Linked DNA regions of Homo sapiens: regions 1 and 2 are each linked to region 3. Evidence: fine-mapped expression QTL. A gene starts in region 3. Each other region holds a variant in brackets. All regions are shown on one strand. Distances are between the middles of the regions. Region 1 overlaps POLR3K (RNA polymerase III subunit K). Region 2 has its middle 14 kb from the start of POLR3K. Region 3 holds the start of RHBDF1 (rhomboid 5 homolog 1).

Evidence for each region. PIP is the estimated chance that this variant, and not a neighbour inherited with it, causes the effect. A credible set is the group of variants that fine-mapping cannot tell apart.
Region 1: its variant is the best candidate, but not a certain one, in a credible set for the expression of RHBDF1 in monocytes after LPS (Quach 2016, PIP 0.58).
Region 2: its variant is the best candidate, but not a certain one, in a credible set for the expression of RHBDF1 in monocytes (Quach 2016, PIP 0.71).

The regions. Positions count from the first base shown.
Region 1 is chr16:44,770-48,900 of GRCh38, forward strand. It overlaps POLR3K (RNA polymerase III subunit K), which reads right to left. Exons shown (of 3, transcript NM_016310.5): 3 at 1,638-2,788. The coding sequence ends at 2,661. Among named protein-coding and RNA genes, the nearest start is that of POLR3K, 6.8 kb to the right of the region's middle. The variant A/AAATAAAT (reference allele first, on the strand shown) is at 1,975.
Region 2 is chr16:37,140-41,368 of GRCh38, forward strand. No RefSeq gene overlaps it. Among named protein-coding and RNA genes, the nearest start is that of POLR3K, 14 kb to the right of the region's middle. RefSeq lists enhancers at 1,501-2,048, 2,049-2,595. The variant T/C (reference allele first, on the strand shown) is at 1,732.
Region 3 is chr16:70,874-75,102 of GRCh38, forward strand. RHBDF1 (rhomboid 5 homolog 1) reads right to left here and starts at 1,758. Exons shown (of 18, transcript NM_022450.5): 1 at 1,640-1,758. LOC124903617 (a long non-coding RNA gene) reads left to right here and starts at 1,954. Exons shown (of 2, transcript XR_007064932.1): 1 at 1,954-2,063; 2 at 3,507-4,117. RefSeq lists enhancers at 1-335, 1,972-2,789, 2,790-3,606, 3,607-4,229 and silencers at 1,328-1,511, 1,758-1,817.

The DNA of each region.
Region 1 (4,131 bases), 26 kb before region 3:
TGCCAAGAGGCCCCCTTCATTGCTGTGTGGACTTGGTAGATAAAGTGTTCTCAAGCCAGAGAGATGTACCAGATCGGCCCCTCGGGGACTCAGACATTGAATACTCTACTGATGGAAGCAATTTCATACTAAAGGGAGTCCACCAAGCTGGGTACGCAGTGGTGACTTCGGACTCAGTAGTAAAGGTGCAGTCTTTGCCTACAGAAACTTCTGCTTAGAAATCAGAGCTGATAGCTCTGACAAGAACTCCCTGGCTAGGAAAAGACCAAAAGACAAATATTTACAAAGATTCCAAATATGCTTCTGCCACTTTGCATGTTCATGAGGCTATTTACAAAAAAAAAAAAAAAAAAAAGCCTTTTAACTACTGAAAGTAAAAAAAAAAAAAAGCACAAGGAAGAAATTTTGCAGCTCTTAGATGCTGTATGAGCCCCAAAAGAGGTGGCCATGATGCCCTGCGAGAGGCACCGAAAAGCAAGAACACCAAAGGCTAAAAAAAATAGAAAGGCAAAAAGGCAAAGCAGGCTGCAGTGACAACTCCACCTTCTAAAGAGGAGGCCTCAGCTATGCCTCTCCTCCCGGAGATTCCCTCCCAGAGATCCCAAGCACCCCTGCAAATAAAAGGGCTTGGTTTGCCCAGAAAAATAAGAACTACATTGAAGGAGGACGGTAAAATTCTCCAATGGGAGGCCATACCTGAAATGGTGACCCCGATTTGTAGAACAGTTCCACCAAGGAACTCACATGGGAAAAAAAACAAACAGCACTAAAGACATTATTAAGGCATCATTTCTATGTGCCATGGCTCGCTGCTATTACTCAAGCCATTTGTAAACAAACAGTGTTTAACTTGTGTTCAGAACAATCCATAACAAGGGCCTGCTTGGCCCCCAGGAGTTCAGGAAACATGAGCCAGCCATGCCCTGTGAAAAGCTGCTTATGGACTTCGCCAAATTGCCCTGAAAGGGGGGCTATCAGTGCATGTGGGTGTTCATTTGCACCTTTTCAGGATAAGTCGAGGCCTTCTCCATCTGGACAGAGAAGGCACTAGAAGTGACTCAGGTGTTGTTAGGAGACGTTATTCCCAGATTTGGACTGCCTCTGAGATCAGACAATGGACCAACATTTGTGGCTGCAAGAGTTCAGGACTTAACTAGACTATTAAAAATAAAGTGGAAATTGCGTACATCCTACAGGCCACAGAGCTCAAGTACAGTGCACGAACCAGACACTCAAACAGCTGCTGAAAAAATTTTGTCAAGAAACTCATCTAAAATAAGATCGGGTCTCGCCCATGGTCCTCCTCCAAGTCAGGTACACCCCCACCAAACAAACTGGGTATTCGTCCCGTGAAATATTGTTCAGAAGGCTGCCCCCAATCATTAATCAAATTAGAGGGGATTTAAAAGAGTTAGGAGAGCTAACCCTTAGAAGACAGATGCACTCCTAAAGGAGTGACAATGCAAGAGATGCATGGCTAAGTATTAAAAAAAAAAAAAATGCCTATAAGTCTAACAGACCCAGTACACCCTTTCAAACCTAGGGTCTGTGTTTAGGTTAAAAAATAAAATCCAACCACTCTAGGACCCATATAGGATAGGCCCCATATTGTGATCAGGAACTGATCAACATGTTCAAACAATAAGAAAATAGTCATATTAAATGTAAAGATTGGTGGGACACAGTGGCTCACGCCTGTAATCCCAGCACTTTAGGAGGCCGAGGCAGACAGATTATCTGAGGTCAGGAGTTGGAGACCAGCCCGACCAACATGGAGAAACCCCATCTCTACTAAAAATGCAAAATTACCCAGGTGTGGTGGTGCATGCCTGTAGTCCCAGCTGCTTGGGAGGCTGAGACAGGAGAATCCCTTGAACCCGGAAGGCAGAGGTTGCAGTGAGCTGAATTCGTACCACTGCACTCCAGCCTGGGCGACAGAACAAGACTCTGTCTTAAATAAATAAATAAATAAAT[A/AAATAAAT]AAATAAATAAATAAATAAATAGTATCTTATACATTTAAAGCAACCCGAGGAAGCAAATCAGGGGAGGTTCAAAAAAATGAATAAGGGAGTAAGAATAGGAATAAAGAAAGAAATTGAAATCCCGGTGATTAACATTTTCGTAGCCTGTTCAAATGTAAGTATGTAGTCTATTCTGGGATCACTGTGATTTGGGGTTTGCTTTCTACCTCTTAAGCTATTTAAAACACTGAGAAGGCAATATTCCAACTTTCATTTAAATGAAATATTCAGAATTTTGATTAAAATAAATAATAAATTACACAAGTTTACAAGTAACAGTTAAATATTTAGGGACATGTACTAAGTTTTACAAACAGTACAAATATTTAAGAGTGTTGATTGGGAGTAAGGGAATGTCAACTGCCAATAAAGTGGAAGATGAAAGAATAGGACTTTACACAGAGCATATTTAGTTATGGGTCTCTGTCTCCTCCCCACACAGAAAAACTCCCAGACATTCATGACTTCATCCACCCTGCCTGGCAGATAGGCCATATTTCCTGACCCCCTGGCTCTTCACCTCAAAAGGTTTATCTTTCCACCACACTAGCAAAGACCCTCAGGACACACAACTCATACTGCCAGCTAAGCATCTACCCCGAGGGACAAGGCAAGCACACACTAGGGCAGCTGGGCCATCCTGGCCCTAATCCCTCCAGCGGTGTCCACACTGAGCATTGCAGCACTTGTAGAAGGTGGTCATCGGCTCATCTGCAGAGCGGGTCTGAAGCTGCATGAAGTAAGCACGAGGATGTTCGCATTTGGGACACGACTCTGGCAATGAGAAAAAAGAAGTGACCACATTTAAAAAAAGATGCTACTCATGGCTGTCAAAAGTAGGTATTACTTAATATGTGGGAGGCCAAGGCGGGCGGATCACCTGAGGTCAGGAGTTCGAGACCATCCTGGCCAACATGGTGAAACCCCATCTCTACTAAAAATACAAAATTAGCCAGGCGTGGTGGCGGGCGCCTTTAATCCCAGCTACTTGGGAGGCTGAGGCAGGAGAATCGCTTGAACCCAGGAGGCAGAGATTGCAGTGAGCCAAGATCGTGCCACTGCACTCAAAAAAAAAAAAAAAAAAAAAAAGTAGGTATTACTATAATATCTTTTTTTTTTTTTTTTGAGATGGAATCTCGCAGTCACCCAGGCTGGAGTGCAGTGGGGCGATCTCAGCTCACTGCAACCTCTGCCTCCCGGGTTCATGTGATTCTCCTTGCCTCAGCCTCCCAAGTAGCTGGGATTACAGTTGCCCGCCACCACACCCGGCTAATTTTTTTGTATTTTTAGTAGAGACAGGTTTTCACTATGTTGGCCAGGCTGGTCTCGAACTCCTGACCTCATGATCCGCCCACCTCAACCTCCCAAAGTGCTGGGATTACAGGCATGAGCCACCGTGCCCAGACTACTTAATATCTTTAAAGATGGTAAAGAACCTCCCTGCTCATTTGATCCCCCTTGACAAGGGTAGATCTACAAACAGTGATGTCATTCCCACCACGCTGTAACACTAAGGGAATCTGGGAGACCTGTGACTCACACACTCTCCCCCTCCCCTCCCTGAGTCCCATGGTTCTTCTCAAATCCAGCTGAAGGCTGGTTGGAAACGTAACATGGAAGGTGACTGTTTTGGTCCATTTTGTGCTGCTGTAACAAAATGCCTAAGACTAAGTAATGGTTAGATGGTGGAAGAGTTTTGAAGTAAATGCTGGGAAAAGCCTGCATTGTCAAGAATTGAGCATTAAGGGCCGGGCGCGGTGGCTCACGCCTGTAATCCCAGGACTTTGGGAGGCCAAGGCAGGCGGATCACGAGGTCAGGAGATCGAGACCATCCTGGCTAACATGGTGAAACCCCGTCTCTACTAAAAACACAAAAAATTAGCCAGGCGTGGTGTCGGGTGCCTGCAGTCCCAGCTACTCGGGAGGCTGAGGCAAGAGAATTGCGTGAACCCGGGAGGCGGAGCTTGCAGTGAGCCGAGATCGCGCCACTGCACTCCAGCTTGGGCAACAGAGTGAGACTCCATCTCAAAAAAAAAAAAGAATTGAGCATTAAGGGCGATTCTGGTGTGGGCTGAAAAGAAGAGAAGAGGCCGGGTATGGTGGCTCTTGCCTGTAAT
Region 2 (4,229 bases), 34 kb before region 3:
GCTCACTGCAACCTCCGACTCCTGGGTTCAGGTGATTCTTCTGCCTCAGCCTCTCAAGTAGTTGGGATTACAGGTGCACACTGCCACCCAGTTAATTTTTTTTGTATTTTTAGTAGAGACGGTTTCACCGTGTTGGCCAGGCTGGTCTCAAACCCGTGACCTCAAGTGATCCACCAGCCTCGGCCTCCCAAAGTCCTGGGATTACAGGAGTGAGCCACCATGCCTAGCCTCTATGCCTTCTCTCTCCCTTTTGTCTTAAATAAAGACCCATCCCAGGATTCTGCCCCAGGAAGGTGGACGAAAGTGGCAGTGGGGTATCGATGCAACAGACAGCACTTCCAGAGCTCTGTTGTACCCCTGTTCCAAGATGCCTCCAAGCGAGAGTACACCAGAAGGGCAAAGCCCTCTATGCTGGAGTGTTAGGCCTGAGCCCCAAGATTCCTGGGGTAGCCAGAGGCTGGCTGGAGATGAGGGGCTGGGTGTCAGGAAGCTCTTGAGTGTGGGAAGGCTACTGACGCCCTATCACCCTATTTGCAGCTCCAGATGATACACCAATAGCTTCTAAGCAGGAAGCAGGGCCAGCCTGGTTACACAAGACTGACTAGTGTTAAGGAGGAGAACAAAAACAGACATACACACAGACTACAGCATGCACGCCTTGTTTTTTCTTTTTTTTTGAGACAGAGGCTAGAGTGCAGTGGCACGATCTCGGCTCACTGCAAACTCTGCCTCCTGGGTTCCAGTGATTCTCCTGCCTCAGCCTCCTGAGTAGCTGGGATTACAGGTGCGCACCACCACTCCCAGCTAATTTTTGTATTTTTAGTAGAGACAGGGTTTCACCATGTTGGTCAGGCTGGTCTTGAACTCCTGACCTCATGATCCGCCCGCCTCAGTCTCCCACAGTGCTGGGATTACAGGCATGAGCCACCATGCCTGGCCCAGCATGCATGCTCTTAAGGAACTCACACACTCTCAACAGGCAGTAGGCACTACTCTAACCCCACTCCTGCAGCCTACCCAGGTACCCACAGGACAGTCCCCTGTTAAGACTGATGATCGGGAAGACTCACCCTTCCCTAGAATGGAGCGTGCAGTCTGGCACCACCGGCCACAACATGAAACACCGTGGCAAGTTCTCTGCAGCAACGTCTGTCCCTTCTTGCAGCAGCTACTGGAAAGGTGGGAATGGGGAAGACAGTCAGCCTGCTCTTGGGATATCTGAGGGCGGGGTTGGAGTGACCACCAGGACCTGGGGAAGCACAGGCACAACAGCCACAGCTGAGAGCTGACCCAGGCCCCAGGATGGCCGACCGCTGCCCCAGCAGTGGAGAAACACCCACGTCGGTGTAGAATCAGGCCAGGCCAGCCACAGGCTAACCCAGGAGCAGACGGCTTGAGAGCAGGGAGTGGGGCGGCTCCAAGCTCAGCAGTCCTCATTTCTAGAAAGGGAGAGGGGATGGTAGGGCAAGACCCACATGTGACACCTGAGAGCTACAAAGGAGGAGCCCAGGACACTCCCTAGGGGAGCATTAGAGTGTTGGGTATAGCGACAAGGGGGTATGGCCATCTGAGGGGAAGGTCTCTGCTTTTCCTCTGCACTGAAAACTCACAGCTGCACCTGGTAAGCTGAGCAGGGCAGGGTTACCACCCTCCTACAGATAAGGAGACTGAGGCTCAGAGACCTAGGACCTGCCCAATACCTGGCTCCTGACACCTCTGTTCTTGGCACAT[T/C]CCCATCAGCTTCTACACAAGCCTGTGAACTTCCCGAGGGCAGTGCCTGCGAGGCACCACTCAGCACATGCCCCAGCAGAAGGCACCACAGTGCTTTACAAATAGGGTGGAGCTACAGGCAGATCTACCTTCCCCCATCCTTGACCACAGGACCAGGAAGTCAGGGCAGGTGCACACACCCCCACCCACATGCTCCGTGCTCCTCTGTGTCACCAGGGAGGCCTCACCACAGCTCAGACACCAGGTCACAGGACAGTTGTGAGAGCAAGAGGGGAAGCCAGTGTCTGCCACCTGGGAAAGAGCTGCCCCGACACCCCCAGTCCTGCTAGGGAGCCTGGCTGACATCACTGCCCAGGACACCCTCTCCTGCACTGGGTCTGTGGACATAGCCTCCAGCCCATGGTCACTCTGGGCCCTTCTTAGAGCCTCACCTGTTCCATGGCCTCAGCATCAAGGCCTGGCCCAGATGACCACTGGGCCTCACGGCCTGCCTGCCCTGGTTCCCTGGGCCACTGTGAAGCTGTGCGCTGCCCTGCAGCTAGACCCCTCCCTCAGACCACAGGCTCTGCCACACCCACGGGAGGGTCTTCAGGCAAGCTCAGCCATTCACCCTCCCTTAGCTGGGCAGGGTGGCCCACGCCTATAGTCCCAGCTCCTTGGGAGGCTGAGGTGGGAGGATCTCCTGAGCCCGGCAATTTCAGGTTGTGGTGAGTCGTTATTGCGCCACTTTACTCCAACCTAGGTGACAGTGAAACCCTGTCTCAAAAAAAAAAAAAAACAACTGCAGCAAGAATATTCCCAAAGATGAGACACTAATGCAGCAAAAAAGGAAGTGTAAATATGTGTTAAAACTGGCGGCGGTAAAAGCATGTGTGGGGCAGGAAAAAGCTTAGGTGGACAAATGTACGAAGCTTATGAAAACATAAAGTGCTTAAAGTGTATGGTTTTCACTCCATCATCATTATTATTATTATTATTATTATCATTATTATTATTGAGACGGAGTCTCACTCTGTCACCCAGGCTGGAGTGCAATGACACGATCTCAGCTCACTGCAACCTCTGCCTTCCAGGTTCCAGTGATTCTCCTACCTCAGCCTCCAGAATAGCTGGGATTACAAGCTGTGCCACCATGCCCAGCATGAGCCACTGCACCCAGATTAATTTTTGTATTTTTAGTAAAGATGAGGTTTCGCCGTGTTCGCCAGGCTGGTCTCGAACCCCTGACCTGAGGTGATCCGCCAACCTCAGCCTCAAAGTGCTAGGATTACAGGCGTGAGCCACTGTGCCTGACTTCACTGCATTATTCAACAGCAAGAACTCTGTGGGAAATATCTGAATCCATTATCAGTGGTGAATCTATTGACTCTATCAGTGGTGTCAATGGTATACTTCATTTGCTCTCCTGGATGTAACCAGCATTCACAGATGCACATTTGCAATTGATTTCAATGACAGGGAACACTAACTTTGAACCCCAATGAAGCAAAATGGCATCCACTCTTCTCAGTAATAGACCCACATTACAAAAATTAAACTCAATTATTATGTTTTGAATTTTGTCTATAATCACATTCTGAGGTTAAATTCAAAAAAATTAAATAAAAAGTATAAAATAAAAAAAATTGCCTATAAAAAACATATGGAAGTTACCAGCCTGGGCAACATGGCAAAGCCCTGTCTCTACAAAAAAATATATATAAAAATTAGGCCAGACGCAGTGGCTCATGCCTTTAACCCTAGCACTTTGGGAGGCTGAGGTGGGCGGATCACTTGAAGTCAGGAGTTCAAGCCCCGCTTGACCAGTATGGAGAAACCCCGTCTCTACTAAACATACAAAATAAGCCAGGCATGGTAGCACATGCCTGGAATCCCAGCTACTCAGGAGGCTGAGGCAGGAGAATAGCTTGAACCCGGGAGGCAGAGGTTGCAGTGAGCCGAGATCATGACATTGCACTCCACCCTGGGCAACAAGAGCAAAACTCCATCTCAAAAATAATAATAATAATAAATAATAATAATAATAATAATAACAACAAGCTGGGCATGGTGCGCACCTGTAGTTCCAGCCACTCGGGAGGCTGAGGTGGGAGGATCGCTTGAGCCCAGGAGGTCCAGGCTGCAGTGAGCTGGGATTGCGTTGGAACAGGAATTAAAAGAAATTAAAGAATGTGTAAGCAGAAACTCAGTTGTATGTAAGAAAACCCAGTTCCCCTGAGAAAGAGAAAGAGCTGGAGTCCTTTAAAAATTGACTGCCTGTTTTTCCGTGGCTAGTGAGCCTTATCTCTCCTCCTTTCCCAGGCATCGTGAAGACCCTGCTTCTCTAGCCGTGCAGCTGCAAGGTCACTAGACAGATAAACTCAAGTCGCAAAACATGTTTTTCTTTGAAAAGTGAGAAATGATGTAATGCATGTCTCAATTAATTAAATAACTACCTTCGTTTCTCACTTCTGTAATATGCTTCTCCCTGCACAGATCTCCCACCACCCCACAAAATA
Region 3 (4,229 bases):
GTTGAAGAAGGAAGGACTCACCCCCAAAATCGTCCAACTCAGAAAAAAAGGCAGAAGCCAAGGAATCCAATCACTGGGCAAAATGTGATCCTGGCACAGACACTGAGGTGGGGGAACTGGAGCCGGTGTGGCGGAGGCCCTCACAGCCAAGAGCAACTGGGGGTGCCCTGGGCAGGGACTGTAGCTGGGAAGATCCTAGGGGAGGGCCTGATGGTCCCTGAAAGGCAGGGGAGACCTGGACGACTCCCCCTAAACCAAGAGCGCACCCTAGAAAGTCAGCTCCCCAAGGTGGGGACCGGCCAGCTCATGAGGGGTGCTGGTTGAGGGGCCTGCTTGTGCAACGGAGGCCACCCAGCCAGTGAAAGCTACTTGGAAGGGCTGGGAAAGGGTCTGAGGCCCCTTCAATCTGGCACCACCAGACTCCCATGCACTCCATTTGCCCCTGCCCCATTCTCAGGAAAAGGGGCCCGGCTTGCCCAGAATGACCCCTGGTGGCAGGGGGCTCCGCCTCAGGGACCCCTTGAGCCCCAGCCAGCTGCTTGGTCCCCAGCTTCTGCCCACCCTTGGGGTCGGGGCTAGGAGGTTGGGGTTAGCTCCACAGGGGTGAGGAGAACCGAGCCTGGGACTGCCCAGGCATCTAGCTGGGTCAAACCTGAAAAGCCAGTTTCATCCTTGAATCTTCTCCCGGTCTCCAACAGGAAGTCCCGTTGGCGGGTGGGAGTTCCCAGGATAGGAGAAGGGCCTCCAGACCTAGGCCCCACCCACCGGGACAGACACACACATTCACCATCTCAAGCGGCACACACAGAAGAAACTCTGGTCAGGACCACCTCGGTCGGAAGCAGGCCCTGGGGGGCCAGGGAAGATCCCCTGCCCATTCCCCGCCCAGCCCCACAAACATGCCCCCAGCATGACAGACAACCAGGCCCTCTGCCAATGCCCTGAGCATCTGGGGTCTGGCTGTCACCCCAGCCGGGAGAAGGCCTGTCCCCGTTGGCCTCTGCGCACAGAGTGAGAGTCTGTCTTCGGGAGTCGCTCCCAGCCCACCCTGGAGCTTCGAAGTGTACAGATGGGGGAGTCAGTGTCGTGGGGCAGAAGGCGGAGTCAGTCCCCCACCCCCAGCTCCACGGCTCCTGCTATTCCCATCGGTGAGGGCAGCCGGGACAGGGACCATCCCGCCCTGGGCTGGAGTTTCAGCTCGGAGACACCACCCGCCGGTCGTGGCCGGGAAGGAAAATGCAGCGGGGGGAGTTCAGAGGAACCTGGGGCACCCCCGGACTCTAGACTCCCGCTCCTGGGACCCTCAGCTGTTGGGCGGGGGCTGGAGCCGAGCTGTCCCGCCCGGCCAGGCCGCTGGGGCTGCTAATCCGGCCACGGGCTATTTTTGCGGCGCGCCGGGCTAGGAATCCGGGGCTGGGCCGCCTCCGCGGGCGACTCGGGAAACTCCAGGAAGAAAAGCCCGGCCGCCCCGGGGGGGCCTCGCCGCGACCCCTCCCCGGCCCCGGCCCCGGCCCCGACACGGCCCCGGCCGCTCTGAGCAGCTCCGGCCCCGGGTGCTGAGGACTCGCCCCGCCCTCCGGACGCAGCCCCGGAACCCGCCCGCCCCCGGAGCCCTGCGCTCCCGGCCGCGCTCACTCACTGCCGCCGCCGGGGGCTCTGGGGGGTCCTGAGGGCGCCGGGGAGGAGGCTGCCGCCGCTGGCCGGGAGGGCCCGCGCCGAGTCCCCGCCCGCCCGCCGGTCCGGCCCGCCCGGGAATGCCCTGGAGCGAGGGGCGTGCGCCCGGGGGCGGGCCCGGCCGGAGCGGGGCGGTCGCGCTGACTCAGAGCTCAGGAATGCGCGCCGCCCGCCTGCCCGGCCCAAGTCACCTCCTCCCGGAAGGCCGCCGGGCTCCCTTCTCCCCAGGGTCCGCCTGCGGGGACACCTGGGGCTGGGGTCTCCAGCGCCTCGGCCCGACGGAGGACCTGGTGGGAGCGGACCGCAGTGTCAGCGCTGGGCGGCTCCGCCTCTCCCTGGCTCCAGATTGAGGCTTGAGCTGTCCTGCCCTGATTTGTGCTGAGAAGAGGGTGAGGAGGGAGAGCAGGCACGGGGTAAAGGGCGGAGGATGGGTGTGTATCCCTGGCTCCCCTAAACCCGACCTCCTCCAGAGGCCCACGCTGACAAGTCCTGTATCCCACACTCACCCAATCCCACTAAGCACTCACATTCCCTCACACACATTCATGTGCACCGATCACTCACAATCATACACACACGTCCCCACATCCTTCCACTTCATGCGTTCATTCGCCTGCACATGCACGTGCTCACATGCACCCACCTACTCATGTACATCTTTCATGGGTACATACACGTGCACACACACACGTGTACACACCGATGCACACACTCAGTTCAGGACCACAGTCATTACCCCTCCCCCTGCCCTGTGCCCCTACCCCCAGAAGCCCCGCTCCACCAGCAGGCACTCAGGCCAGGCTGCACCGGCCCCACCCGAAGCCACTCAGCAGAGGCAGCGCAGTGTCTGGTGTCCACTCTGGGCTCTTCTCACTGTCTCAGAGCTCAGCGGCCACCCCGGGGTGGGCTCATATCCCTGCACAATCTGGGCTGGACTCAAAATGGCACTCTGCTTTCCGCTGGGGCTGCTGGTGAGAGTTTCCCAGCATTTCTCTCCTGACACTGGGTGGGCTGACCCTCCCAGGGTGGGGGACAGGGGTGCCAACAGCAGAGTACGGGCAGGGCTGTCCAGGAGCTCTGAGTGGTGGGTGGCCAAGGCTTCCTCTGGATAGAGGGTGCAGGGATCCCTTCGTCCCATGGGTCCCTAAGGACCCCTCTACAGGGTGCCCCCCCATGCCTCGGACAAATGTGTCTTCAGGCCCTGTGCTGGTCACAAGGTGCTGCTGCTTCAGTGCCATCCTCTGGGTCTGGGTGGCACCAGCCCTCTCCAAACTGAGCTGTTGCACTTGAGGGCCCGACGCAGACAATGGCCTGCTCCTTGGCTAGACAGAAAAGGGGAGAATTTGAACTAAAGGTGCTGGTACACTTACCGGTAGATCCCAGAGCCTGGGCAAGATTCCCCTGCCCATATCCTTGTCCATGCCACGGGATAGGGCGGTGCCTGCACATAATGGGTGCTCTCTGAACACAAGCAATATCAACACAATTCTCATGTAGAAGGAGACAATGGAAGCTTTGGAGGGGGTGGAGGGTAACTCCACCAGGGGATGACTGCCAGTGCATCACGGACACCGGGTGAGAGGGAGCCTGCCCCAGTGCCAACACTCAGTGCTCCGATAGCCTGCACGTGCCACCCCTCCCATGCCAGGCTCACAGCCAGAGACAGGACAGTCTCCATGCTTAGCATTATTGACCTGCCAGGGATAAGCAAGCCCTATCGGGCCTGGATGCCCAGACTAGGCTGGCAGGGCCAGAAGTGGTGTCCTCTCTGGAAAGCTGGGGACTGGGCTTGCCTCCAAAGCATGCCACAGCTGGGCATCTGGTGTCAGCAGGTCTCCTCCTGCAGTGGACTCTGTCAGACCCCACCTAGACCCGCTCCAAGACCCAGACACTCATCGCCAGCTGCCAGGAGCACCAGTCACAGCTGGCTCAGAGCTGAAACCCCCCGCACCCAGGAGTCACCTTCAGTGGGGAGCATGCCCCAGTCTGCCTCTGCAGGCAAATCCCCAGCTCAGAGCCTGTGTCCAGGAATCCCCAGGCTCTCAGCCCACCCTGGCCTCCTGAGTGAGGTCATCAGAAGGATGATCAGAGGGGGGTCGATACACGTGTGCTCAGTGTCAGGCCTCTGAGCCCAAGCCTGCACGTATACATCCAGATGAAGCAAGTGAAGAATCACAAAAGAAGTGAAAATGGCCGGTTCCTGCCTTAACTGATGACATTACCTTGTGAAATTCCTTCTCCTGGCTCAGAAGCTCCCCCACTGAGGCACCTTGTGACCCCCACTCCTCCCCGCCACAGAACAACCCCCTTTGACTGTAATTTTCCACTGCCCGCCCAAACCCTATAAAACGGTCCCACCCCATCTCCCTTCCCTGACTCTCTTTTCTTCGGACTCAGCCCGCCTGCACCCAGGTGAAATAAACAGCCTTGTTGCTCACACAAAGCCTGCTTGGTGGTCTCTTCACACGGACGCGCACGAAACTCAGGATTGTACCCAGTCCACATAGACAAGTGTGTGCACATATGTGTGCTCTGCCTCCTGCCTGCCCTACTAC